Homo sapiens: one gene and its partners. The protein of the gene in region 1 purifies or fractionates together with the protein of each later gene. This does not show direct contact. Each region holds a gene or a part of one and is shown on either strand. Other genes may lie near its edges.

Region 1 (3,646 bases):
ACCTGAGGTCAGGAGTTCAAGGCCAGCCTGGCCAACATGGTGAAATCCCGTCTCTAATAAAAATATAAAAATTAGCCAGGCATGGTGGCACATGCCTGTAATCCCAGCTACTCAGGAGGATGAGGCAGGAGAATTGCTGGAGCCCGGGAGATGGAGGTTGCAGTGAGCCAAGATTGCACCACTGCACTCCAGCCTGGGCGACAGAGCAAGACTCTGTCTCATAAAAAAAAAAAAAAAAAAAAAAAAAAGAGAGAGAGAGAGAGAGAGAGAAACTGTCAGAGAATGACAAATACCATGAGAAAATGAGGCAGTATGTGACAGAGACAGGGGCCACCTTGGATAGGACCATCAGGGAGGCCGGGTTGACTTGGAGAAGTCAGCCATGCAAAGCACCATGGGAAGTACATTCCAGGCAGAAGGAACAGCAGGTACAAAGGATGTAGGACAGGAAGAAGCTCATGGAGAGTGAGCAGCCCTGGAAATACATTTAGAATGCAGGGTGAAGCCTGGGCACGGTGGCTCATGCCTGTAATCCCAGCACTTCGGGAGGCCGAAGTGGGTGGATCACTTGAGGTCAGGAGTTCAAGAGCAGCCTGGCCAACATGGTGAAACCCATTATCTACTAAAAATACAAAAATTAGCCGAGTGTGGTAGTGTGTACCTATAATCCCAACTACTCGGAGTTGAGGCAGGAGAATCACTTGAACCCGGGAGGTGGAGGTTGCAGTGAGCCGAGATTGCACCACTGTACTCCAGACTGGGCGAAAGAGCAAGACTCTGTCTTAAAAAAAAGAATGCAGGGTGAAAATAAAATCAAATAATATGTTGCCATTAAAACAGCAGTAATTGCTAGGATCTCAGCACATACCAGCTTCTCTCAGATCTCATGTAATTCCTCAGAGGAAGTTGTTATCGCTGTCCCATTTTTACAGATGAGGAAAACTGAGGCAGGGAGCAGCGAAGTGGCTTGCCTGAGATGACACACCTAGGAAAGTGGGAGTCAGGGTTCAAACCCCCGAGTCTGACTCTTTCCCACAGCGTGAGGGTAAAGGGGAGGGTATCCAACCTGGCATTGGGGGGGCAGCAAAGCTTCCCGGGGAGATGATGTTGAGGCAGAGGCCCGGAGGGGCCAAGAGAACTCTGATGAGAGGAGGGCGTTCTGCAGAGAGAGAACCGTAGGTGCAGGCAGGGTGCGGTGGTTCACGCCTGTAATCCCAGCACTTTGGGAGGCTGAGGCGGGCGTATCACCGGAGGTCTGGAGTTTGAGACCAGCCTGGCCAACATGGTGAAACCCTGTCTCTACTAAAAATACAAAAATTAGCCAGGCTTGGTGTCGGGCATCTGTAATCCCAGCTACTCGGGAGGCTGAGGCAGGAGAATCGCTTGAACCCGGGAGGTGGAGGTTGCAGTGAGCTGAGATCACTCCATTGCACTCCAGCCTGAGTGATAAGAATGAAACTCCCTCTCAAAGAGGAAGGAAGGGAGGGAGGGAGGGAGGAAGGAAGGAAGGAAGGGAGGGAGGAAGCAAGGAAGGAAAAAAAAGAGAGAGAGAGAGAGAGAGAAAACTGTAGGTGCAAAGGCCCGGGCCTAAGCAAGGGCCTGCAGGTTTGGGAAAACCCACATGGGATAAAGCTGACTCTTGGGCCAGCCGGAGGAGCAGGAGGAATCAAAGAGCCGGCGCTCTATCCTGGGGTGCTGGGGATCGACAGAGGGCTGTGTGTGGTGAAAAGCAGGTGAGGCAAAGGGAAGGGGAGAGACTAGAGCCAGGGAGGCTGGGAGGAGGCTGTGGGGACGAGGAGGAGAAGACTGAGAAGAGTCTGGGGCAGGAATGAAGGTGGAGGTGAGGTGTAAGGAGGAAGGAGAGGTAAAGGGGTCCCTGGGGACCTGCTCCCCCAGGAGCAGGCCAGTGAGGGCCATCCAGAGATGGGGACCTGGGGAAGGAGTGGGGTGTGGTCGAGGAGAGAGACTCCGAGGTGAGGAAACTGAGATCAAAAAGGTAGAGTGGGCCGGGTGCGGTGGTTCACGCCTGTAATCCCAGCACTTTGGGAGCCTGAGGAGGGTGGATCACTTGAGGTCAGGAGTTCGAGACCAGCCTGGCCAACATGGTGAAACCCCATCTTTACTAAAAATACAAAAATTAGCCAGGCGTGGTGGCGCATGCCTGTAATCCTGGCTACTCAGGAGGCTGAGGCAGGACTCCCGCCTGGGCGACAGAGCGAGACTCCGTCTCAAAACAAACAAACAAACAAAAACAACAAAAAAGGGTGGAGGCAGCAGTTTGGTTCTGCTGGGGGTTGGGGCAGGATGAAGAGGAAGGGGCTGCCTTCCCAACTCAGCCACCTCCTCACTCCACAGGAGCCTGCAGCACCCCAATGTCCTCCAGTGCCTGGGTCTGTGCGTGGAGACGCTGCCGTTTCTGCTGATTATGGAGTTCTGTCAACTGGTGAGGGTCTTGGGGGGTTGGGGAAGGGCAGAGGGGGCAGCTGGACAAGGCCGGGGCCAAGCCTGGTGCCCCTGGGCTTCGTCGTCATCATCATCATCATCGTAGATGATGTGTGGCATGCGCTAACATTTCATGAGTGCTGCCTGTCCTGGGGGCTGGCCTGAACAAGCAGGCAAGATGGGCTGTGTTATTACCTGCTGCAAGCAGCAGAGGAAACTAAGGCTCAGAGGGGCTACCCAGTGACAGCAGAAGCCATTCCAGCCTCCGGGCCGACTAGCTGGAGACCTGAGCGGCTGGTGGTGCTGACCTTCTTTGCCTCCCTCCCAGGGGGACCTGAAGCGTTACCTCCGAGCCCAGCGGCCCCCCGAGGGCCTGTCCCCTGAGCTACCCCCTCGAGACCTGCGGACGCTGCAGAGGATGGGCCTGGAGATCGCCCGCGGGCTGGCGCACCTGCATTCCCACAACTACGTGCACAGGTGGGCGGGCCGGGGAGCCGCGGGAGGAGCTACTAAGGGGAAGGGGGAAGGAGGTGAGGCCTCAGGGGAGGGGCTAGAGGGGGGGCGGACCCATGACTGGCTGACACAAAATAGGGACGAACCGAGGAGGGTATGGAGGAGAAGGGGCCAGGAGAGGAGGCGGGACCAGGAGGGGAATGAGAGGAACCAAGTGAGAGGGAGGCGGGGTCAGGTGATGAGGGGAAGGGCCAGGAGAGGAAAAGGGGTCAGGAGAGGAGGAGGAGGAACCAGGGGAGGGGGAGGGGTCAGGGGAGGAGGAGGAAGAACCAGGATAAGGGGAGGAGCCAGGAGAGGGGGAGGAGGAGCCAGGAGAGGGGGAGGAGGAGCCAGGGGAGGGGAGGGGCCAGGAGAGAAGGAGGAGGAGCCAGGATAGGGGAGGGTCCAGGAGAGAAGGAGGAGCCAGGAGAGGGAAGAGGAGCCAGGGGAGGGGGGCAGGGGAGGGGGAGGAGTCAGGAGAGGAGGAGGGTCCAGGAGAGGAACGGAAGGAGCCAGGTGAGGGGGAAGCAGGGTCACGTGATGAGGAGAGGTGGCTGGGAGAGGAGGGGGAGGAGTCAACAGAGAAGCAGGAGAAGCCAGAAGGGTCAGATGAATAAGAGGAGGAGCCAGTGCAGAGGAAAAGGAGAGGAGACTTGGAGGAACCAGGGGTGGGGAGAAGACAAGACAGCAGGGGAGAGTGAAAGCAGTCAGA
Region 2 (3,646 bases), on another chromosome or scaffold:
GTGAAACCCCGTCTCTACTAAAAATGCAAAAATTAGCCAGGCATGGTGGTGTGTCCTGTAATCCCAGCTTCTCAGGAGGCTGAGGCAGAAGAATGGCTTGAACCCAGGAGGCAGAGGTTGCAGTGAGCCGAGATAGCGCTGCTGCACTCCAGCCTGGGCAACAGAGCGAGGCTCTTGTCTCAAAAAAAAAATAAAGATAGAAAATGGTTAATTTGGCCGGGCATGGTGGCTCACACCTGTAATCCCAGCACTTTGGGAGGCCGAGGCGAGGTGTTCACGAAGTCAAGAGATCGAGACCATCCTGGCCAACCAACATGGTGAAACCCCATCTCTACTAAAAATACAAAAATTAGCTGGGCATAGTGGCGCATACCTGTAGTCCCAGCTACTCAGGAGGCTGAGGCAGGAGAATCGCTTGAACCCGGGAGGTGGACGTTGTAGTGAGCTGAGATCGCGCCACTGCACTCCAGCCTGGGCGACGAGCGAGACTCTGTCTCAGAAAAAAATGATAGAGAGAGAAAGAGAGAATGGTTGATTTAAAAAGCATGCAGTTTATATAGAATAAATAAAATTGTTAATTTATGTTATATCGATCTTACTTCAATGTAAAAAACCAAGGGCTCACTCCTGTAATCTAGCACTTTGGGAGCCTGAGGCAGAAGGACCACTTAAGCTCAGGAGTTCAAGACCAGCCTGGGCAACAAAATAAGACCTCGTCTGTACTAAAAAATAAAAAAGATTAACTGGGTGTGGTGGCGCTTGCCTATAATCCCAGCTACTCAGCAGGCTGAGTTGGGAGGATCGCTGGAGCCCAGGAGGTCAAAGCTGCAGTAACCAGAGATCACACCCCTGCACTCCTAGGTGATAGAGTGAGACCCTGTCTCAAAAATAATAATAATAAAAAAATAACCCCCAGGCCGGGCGCTGTGGCTTACGCCTGTAATCCTGGCACTTTGGGAGGCCGAGGCGAGCGGATCACCTGAGGTTGGGAGTTCAAGACCAGCCTGACCAGCATGGAGAAAACCCCGTCCCTACTAAAAATACAAAATTAGCTGGATGTAGCGGCACGCACCTGTAATCCTAGCTACTCGGGAGGCTGAGGCAGTCGAATCGCTTGAACCCAAGAGGCAGAGGTTGCGGTGAGCCAAGATCGCTCCATTGCACTTGAACCTGGGCAACAAGAGCAAAACTCCGTCTCAAAAAAGTAAATAAAAATAGGACCAGGCGCGGGGGCTCACGCCTGTAATCCCAGCACTTTGGGAGGCCGACGTGGGCAGATCGCGAGGTCAAGAGATCGAGCCCATCCTGGCTAACACGGTGAAACCCTGTCTCTACTTAAAAGAAAAAAATTATCCGGGCGTGGTGGTGGGCACCTGTAGTCCCAGCTACTCAGGAGGCTGAGGCAGGAGAATGGTGTGAACCCGGAAGGCAGAGCTTGCAGTGAGCTGAGATCGCGCCACTGCACTCCAGCCTGGGTGACAGAGCGAGACTCTGTCTCTAAATAAATAAATTAATAAATAAAACCCCCAAAATGCACAGCTATCATGGCTTAGTTGAGGGTGCAGGCTGGTCAGGCTGCTTTTCCAGTGCCAGGTGTGAGCTTTCTCTTCTCATTCTTTAAATTAGGGGTCGCTGTGATGAAATTCAAGAACCCCCCAGTGAACAGCCTGAGCCTGGAGTTTCTGACGGAGCTGGTCATCAGCCTGGAGAAGCTGGAGAATGACAAGAGCTTCCGCGGTGTCATTCTGACCTCGGTAGGTGCTAGTTCAGCTCCCTACCCCAGCCCGAGTTCTTGGCCTGAGTTCTCTGATGTGAGCCCAGGCCTGTTGCACATGGAAGAGGCAGAGCCTGCCAACGTGTGGCACAGGCCAGCCGGCAGCCCCACCACCCTGGACTCCAGGCGCCTTCACGGGAGGCTTCCAGGAGCACCGTCTGGGTGTGCCCCAGCAGGGACCCAAACTGCCATGGGCCTCAAGCAGATCATTCCCAAAGGTGAAGGTGGACCAGTCTCAGAGACAGCCTTCCCAGGAGACAGCTTTCCCAAGAGACGCCCTTCCCGGGAGACAGCCTTCCCAAGAGGCAGCCCTCCTGGGAGACCGCCTTCCTGGGAGACAGCCTTCCCTGCCCGGGCCGTCGTCCAGGCGGACACTGGGGAGAGCTGTGGGCAGCGAGTGAGGGAGAGCCATGCATCTATGGGGTCACCTTGGACCCTAAGCACACCTGGTGGTGGGTTCCTGGAGTGCTCCCCACTAGGATCACTTGGGTGCCCTGAGCCAGTCCTGCGAACAATACCCATGCTCTCTGATCCTCTGTGGGCCAGTCTTCAGGGCGAGTTCTCAAGGGTGAACCTCTTTGGTCTGAGTTCTTGTGCAGGGGACTCTAAATGTTGCCTGAGTGCTGGCGAACGCTAGGCGTGTCATCTGTGGGAACGGTGTCATTACCAACATCGCCGAGGGGCAGTAAGCAGTGTCAGGCCCAGGAGGATGGGACCCTTGAGGAGAAGCGGGCATTGGCTGAGGTGAGGGGAGTGAGGGGTCCTCGGAGGCTGGCGTGGCTTTACAGGGCCTGGCCTAGAACTCCTGACCTCAAGTGATCTGCCCACCTCGGCCTCCCAAAGTGCTGGCCACGTCCAGCCTTATATATTTATTGAGACAGAATCTCCCTCTCTTGCCCAGGCTGGAGTACAGTGACGTGATCTTGGCTTACTACAACCTCCGCCTCCTGGGTTCAAGCGATTCTTGAATCTTGAAAATTTTTAAAATTTTTGGGAGAGACAGTGCCTTTATTGCCCACGTTGGTCTTGAACTCCTGGGCTCAAGCACTCCTCCCACCTCGGCTCCCCAGTGTGCTAGGATTACAGGTGCGAGCCATTGCACCTGGTTAATTTTTTTGCTTAATTTTTACTTTTTTGTACAGGCGGGGTCTTGCTATGTTGCCCAGGCTGGTCTTGAACTCCTGGCCTCAAGCAGTTCTCCAATCTTGGCCTCCCAAAGCTCTGGGATTACAGGCATGAGCCACCACGCCAGGCCTGGGTTTTGAGTAACGGAAGTAGAACGCGTTTTGTAGAAACAAAGGACCGGCCTACCCATTCTGTGCGGCACCAGCTCACACCTGTTTGGGAACAGCGGAGCTGCGTTGCCCACCCGCACCGTTCCTGGCTTTTTCACATCGCCTGAGGATGTGGAGGCCATCCCATCTGTCCCAGCCGCCTCCTCCTCGCACACATTAGGTGGCTGTCGCCCTCCTTCCTGCAGACAGGGCGGGGTAAACATCCACCCAGCTCTGCTTGTGTGAGTCAGGGTGAGCTGGGTTCAGCTGCAGGAACAAGTTCACCCACAGCCTTGGGGGGTCTGGCCCTCGGGAGGAAAACGTGCCGTGTTGTGCAGAGGGGAAGGTACCCTTGTCATTTGCTCAGGGGGCTGTGACCATGCAGGGTCCCCAGGGTGGGTTCTCCACTCCTCCCCGAGCCCGCCTCCCTGGCCGGCAGCCCTGACTGGGAGTCTGAGGCTCCTGTGCTGGCGCCCGCTACTCCAGCCGTGGGAGGGTCCCTTCCACCTGTGCTCACCCCTCGCCCTTCCTTGGTAGCTGCTGAGAAACCCACACATTCCAGATCATTCTCCCACCCTAGCACTTCCTGGTCCACACG
Region 3 (3,746 bases), on another chromosome or scaffold:
GTACTTTGGGAGGCCTAGTGGGGGCGGATTGCGTGAGCTCAGGAGTTTGAGACCAGCCTCTGGGCAACATGGTGAAAACCCGTCTCTACTAAAATACAAAAGATTAGCCAGGCTTGGCAGCGTGCGCCTGTAATCCCAGCTACTCGTGAGGCTGAGGCGAACTCAGGAGGCAGAGGTTGCAGTGAGTCAAGATCGCGCCTGGGTGACAAGTGCGAGACTGTCTCAAAAAAAAAAATTACCCCCAAACAGACCTATTTAGGTGGCTTATGCCTATAATATCTGTGCTTTGGGAGGCCAAGGCCAGAAGATCTCTTAAGGCCAGGAGTTTGAGACCAGCCTGGGCAACATAGCAAGACCCCTTCTCTATATAAAATAAAAATTAAAAAAATTAGCATGGTGGAGCATGCCTGTAGTCCTAGCTACGTAGCTACTTGGGAAGCAGAGACAGGAGGATCCCCTAGCTACTTGGGAGGCAGAGACAGGAGGATCCCCTGAGACCAGGAGTTTGAGGCTGCAGTGAGATATGATTGCACCACTGTACTCCAGACTGGGTGACAAGAGCGAGACCCTATCTTAAAAAAAAAAAATACTCCAAAACATAATGGCCTAAAATAACAACCATTTGTTTTCTCTCGTTTCTGTGGACCATGAATTCAGACAGCATGGTGGGTATGGCTTGTCTCTGCTCCATGATGTCTGGGGTCTCAGCTGGAGTGGTTGAAGGTTGGGGACTGGAATCACCTGAGGCCTTTTTACCCATATTTGTATCTGGACTGAGCCTGGAATTTGATTGCTTCAAAATATTTTCACGGCTGGGTGTGATGGCTCACGCCTGTAATCCCAGCACTTTGAGAGGCTGAGTCTGGCCGTCTGCTTGAGCCCAGGAGTCAGCAACCAGCCTAGGCAACATAGGGAGACCTAGTCTCTACAAAAAAAAAAAAATACAACAATTTGCTGGGCGTGGTCGCCTGCGCCTGTAATCCCAGCACTTTGGGAGGCCGAGGAGGGAGGCTCACTTGAGTCCAGGAGTTCAAGACCAGTCTGGCCAACATGGTGAAACCCCGTCTCCACAAAAAATACAAAAATTATCTGGTTGTGGAGGCTTTCGCCTGTAGTCTCAGCTACTGGGATGGCTGGGGAGGGAGGATCGCTTGAGCCCTGATGGTCGAGATTACAGTGAGCTGTGGTCACGTCACTGCACTCCAGCTTGGGTGACAGAGTGAGACCTTGTCTCAAAAAAAAAAAAAAAAATCCTAAAATATTTTCATGAGTTTGTGCTGGGTAGGCCTAAGGGAAACATGCTCAGTAAATCGAAAAATCTCGGATTACACATAAACCACCGGCCCCGGCAGGTTAGACTTGGTGGACACGGGAGCCAGCAGCGTGTCAGGTGCTCGTTGACCCCAGCGCCAGTGTCTCCATCCACGTCCTTCACTCGTCAACCTTTCCTGGCCCAGGCTGCGGTGTCCCAGCGCCAGGCTCCGCCCCGCCCTTGGCTGCCGGCCAATCGCCGCCGACTGAGAGGCGACTATTGGAGGAAGCGGGATGGGCGGTGCCCGCGCCGGGCCGCTAGGGGTGCGGGGTTGGGGAGGAGGCCGCTAGTCTACGCCTGTGGAGCCGATACTCAGCCCTCTGCGACCATGGCTGTGCTGGCGGCACTTCTGCGCAGCGGCGCCCGCAGCCGCAGCCCCCTGCTCCGGAGGCTGGTGCAGGTGAGCGGGGTTCGTCCCCACAGCACTCAGACCCGGGATGCGAGGAGTCCCCGCCTCGGAAGCTTCCAGCCCGCGGCCGTTGCGGCTCCCGCGGCCCGGGCGCGCGGCTTAGGCCCCAGGACAGTCACGCGACGGGTTCTGGTCCAAAAACCGCCTAAGTGCTCCGATAACACCCAGGGACTCGCCTATTTTTACAGCGCGTTTCTACTTCCAAGGTCTCGGCGTAATCATCTTAATGAGCGTTACTGGTGTGTCAAACAAGGGCACGTGTCTGGGCGGGCAGGACCGCCAGGATTGGCGCTGGCCCGGCCTGAGCGGTGGGATCGGGGAGAGTCTCTTTGCAGGCCTGTGCAGCTGCTCCCGAGATTTTCTTTAAAACATATTTGTGTGCGTTATTGTCAGGAGAGGTTCCTTTTCTTTTTTAATACAATAGATAATCATTGGGCATACAAGGGGAGAGGGCACCATGTGATCATAACAGATGTTTTTTGGAGCAGCCTGAAATTTATCAGGGAAAACAAATGACTACTCAGATAATACAATAAATTATACTTGACATATGAGCAAAGCTCACATACTGAGGGCGTTCCAAGGGCTGTCGCTCTTCTGACCGTTGTGTTTAGGGAACACAGCAGGGGCAGAGTCTCAAAGAATTTATTCTCCACATGCGTAAGCAAGGGAGTACGCACCACAGATTGTCAGGCAAAGCCTCAGGAATAGGTAGAGACCTTCAGGGTGTGGTTGGTGAAGCTTGAGTTTTCTAGGTCGATGGGGGCAATAAGCTTGGAGATCCAGTTATGTTGTGAGTATGGACTTGACCCTAGTTAAGTAGGGATTGTTGATATGTTTGTTTTTGTTGCAATGGTAGGTCACTCTAGTTCTTACGTCTGGGCGTAGAATAACATTACTTGCACAAGGGTGCTGGCGGTAGGAGCTTTGCAAGAGATTGTAAAAGAACCAGTCTAGGACTTGACAATTAGGGAGTGAGGGTGCGAAGCCAAGGGAAAAGAAAGAGTCTAAAATTGATCCTGGGTGACTGAGATAATAGAAAAGTCACAAGGCGTAGGTTTCCAGGGAAGATGAGTTTTTAGCCTATTTGTTAGTCTCATGGGATGAGTGAAGAAATCACAAGAAAGTAATTAGGTTATCTTGGGTTTCAGTCAGTATTGACTAGGTGACATAGGTGAACTAGGTACTCTAGAGATGTAAAAAAAAAAAGTTCAGAACCTTCTTAATTTATGGTTTAATTAAGATCTTACAATCAGGTTGGTTGAGGTGGCTTATGCCAGTAATCCCAGCACTTTGGGAGGCCGGGGTGGGTAGATCATTTGAGGTCAAGAGTTCAAGACCAGCCTGGCCAACGTGGTGAAGCCCCACCTCTATTAAAAATACACACACACACAAAAATTAGCTGGGTGTGGTGGCAGGCGCCTGTAATCCCAGCTACTTGGGAGGCTGAGGCAGGAGAATCGCTTGAACCCGGGAGGAGGGGAAGGTTGCAGTGAGCTGAGATCATGCCACTGCACTCCAGCCTGGGCAACAGAGTGAGACTCCGTCTTAAAAAAAAAGATCTTAAAATGAAACACAAATACTCCTCATGAAAAAAATAAGCCTGTACATGCTGTAATGTATGATATGTGACATTCATATTACTGAACTCTAGGAAGCAGTTGTATTGGACACTTGAATTAAATGGTCATTTACTGAACTATAAACAGGATTTCCAGTTTTCTGTGCTATTTTGTAGAATGGAATTTGACCTCTCATTACATTGGCTCTTTTCCCTTTGCTTACCAGGTCTCTTTTATGGTCAACAAATCTTTATGGACTTTATTGGAGCACATTGCCTTTCTAGCTCTAATCACTTTTCTCTCTCTGGTCAAAGGAGTGGTCTTTACTCATTACCTCCCATGTATTCTGCATCTATTTCTCCTTAACTCTCTGCAGTTAAATTTCTTTGCCACTGAAGCTGAAAAATACAGTGATTTCCTTTTTCTTTGTTTTTTAATTATTTTTTTAAATCTATTTTAATTT

Evidence for each region.
Region 2: the proteins of LMTK3 (region 1) and ECI1 purify together in Homo sapiens (affinity purification with mass spectrometry; one large-scale study listed by BioGRID and IntAct). This does not show direct contact.
Region 3: the proteins of LMTK3 (region 1) and ACAT1 purify together in Homo sapiens (affinity purification with mass spectrometry; one large-scale study listed by BioGRID and IntAct). This does not show direct contact.

What each region holds. Positions count from the first base shown.
Region 1 is NC_000019.10:48,501,706-48,505,351, reverse strand, and holds part of LMTK3 (serine/threonine-protein kinase LMTK3 precursor), read left to right. Parts: intron 1-2,355; coding exon 2,356-2,443; intron 2,444-2,770; coding exon 2,771-2,919; intron 2,920-3,646.
Region 2 is NC_000016.10:2,244,967-2,248,612, reverse strand, and holds part of ECI1 (enoyl-CoA delta isomerase 1, mitochondrial isoform 1 precursor), read left to right. Parts: intron 1-1,626; coding exon 1,627-1,754; intron 1,755-3,646. UniProt on the Homo sapiens protein: Key enzyme of fatty acid beta-oxidation. Able to isomerize both 3-cis (3Z) and 3-trans (3E) double bonds into the 2-trans (2E) form in a range of enoyl-CoA species, with a preference for (3Z)-enoyl-CoAs over (3E)-enoyl-CoAs.
Region 3 is NC_000011.10:108,119,967-108,123,712, forward strand, and holds the start of ACAT1 (acetyl-CoA acetyltransferase, mitochondrial isoform b precursor), read left to right. Parts: upstream 1-1,600; 5' UTR 1,601-1,640; coding exon 1,641-1,712; intron 1,713-1,829; exon of another isoform or gene 1,830-1,960; intron 1,961-3,746. UniProt on the Homo sapiens protein: This is one of the enzymes that catalyzes the last step of the mitochondrial beta-oxidation pathway, an aerobic process breaking down fatty acids into acetyl-CoA.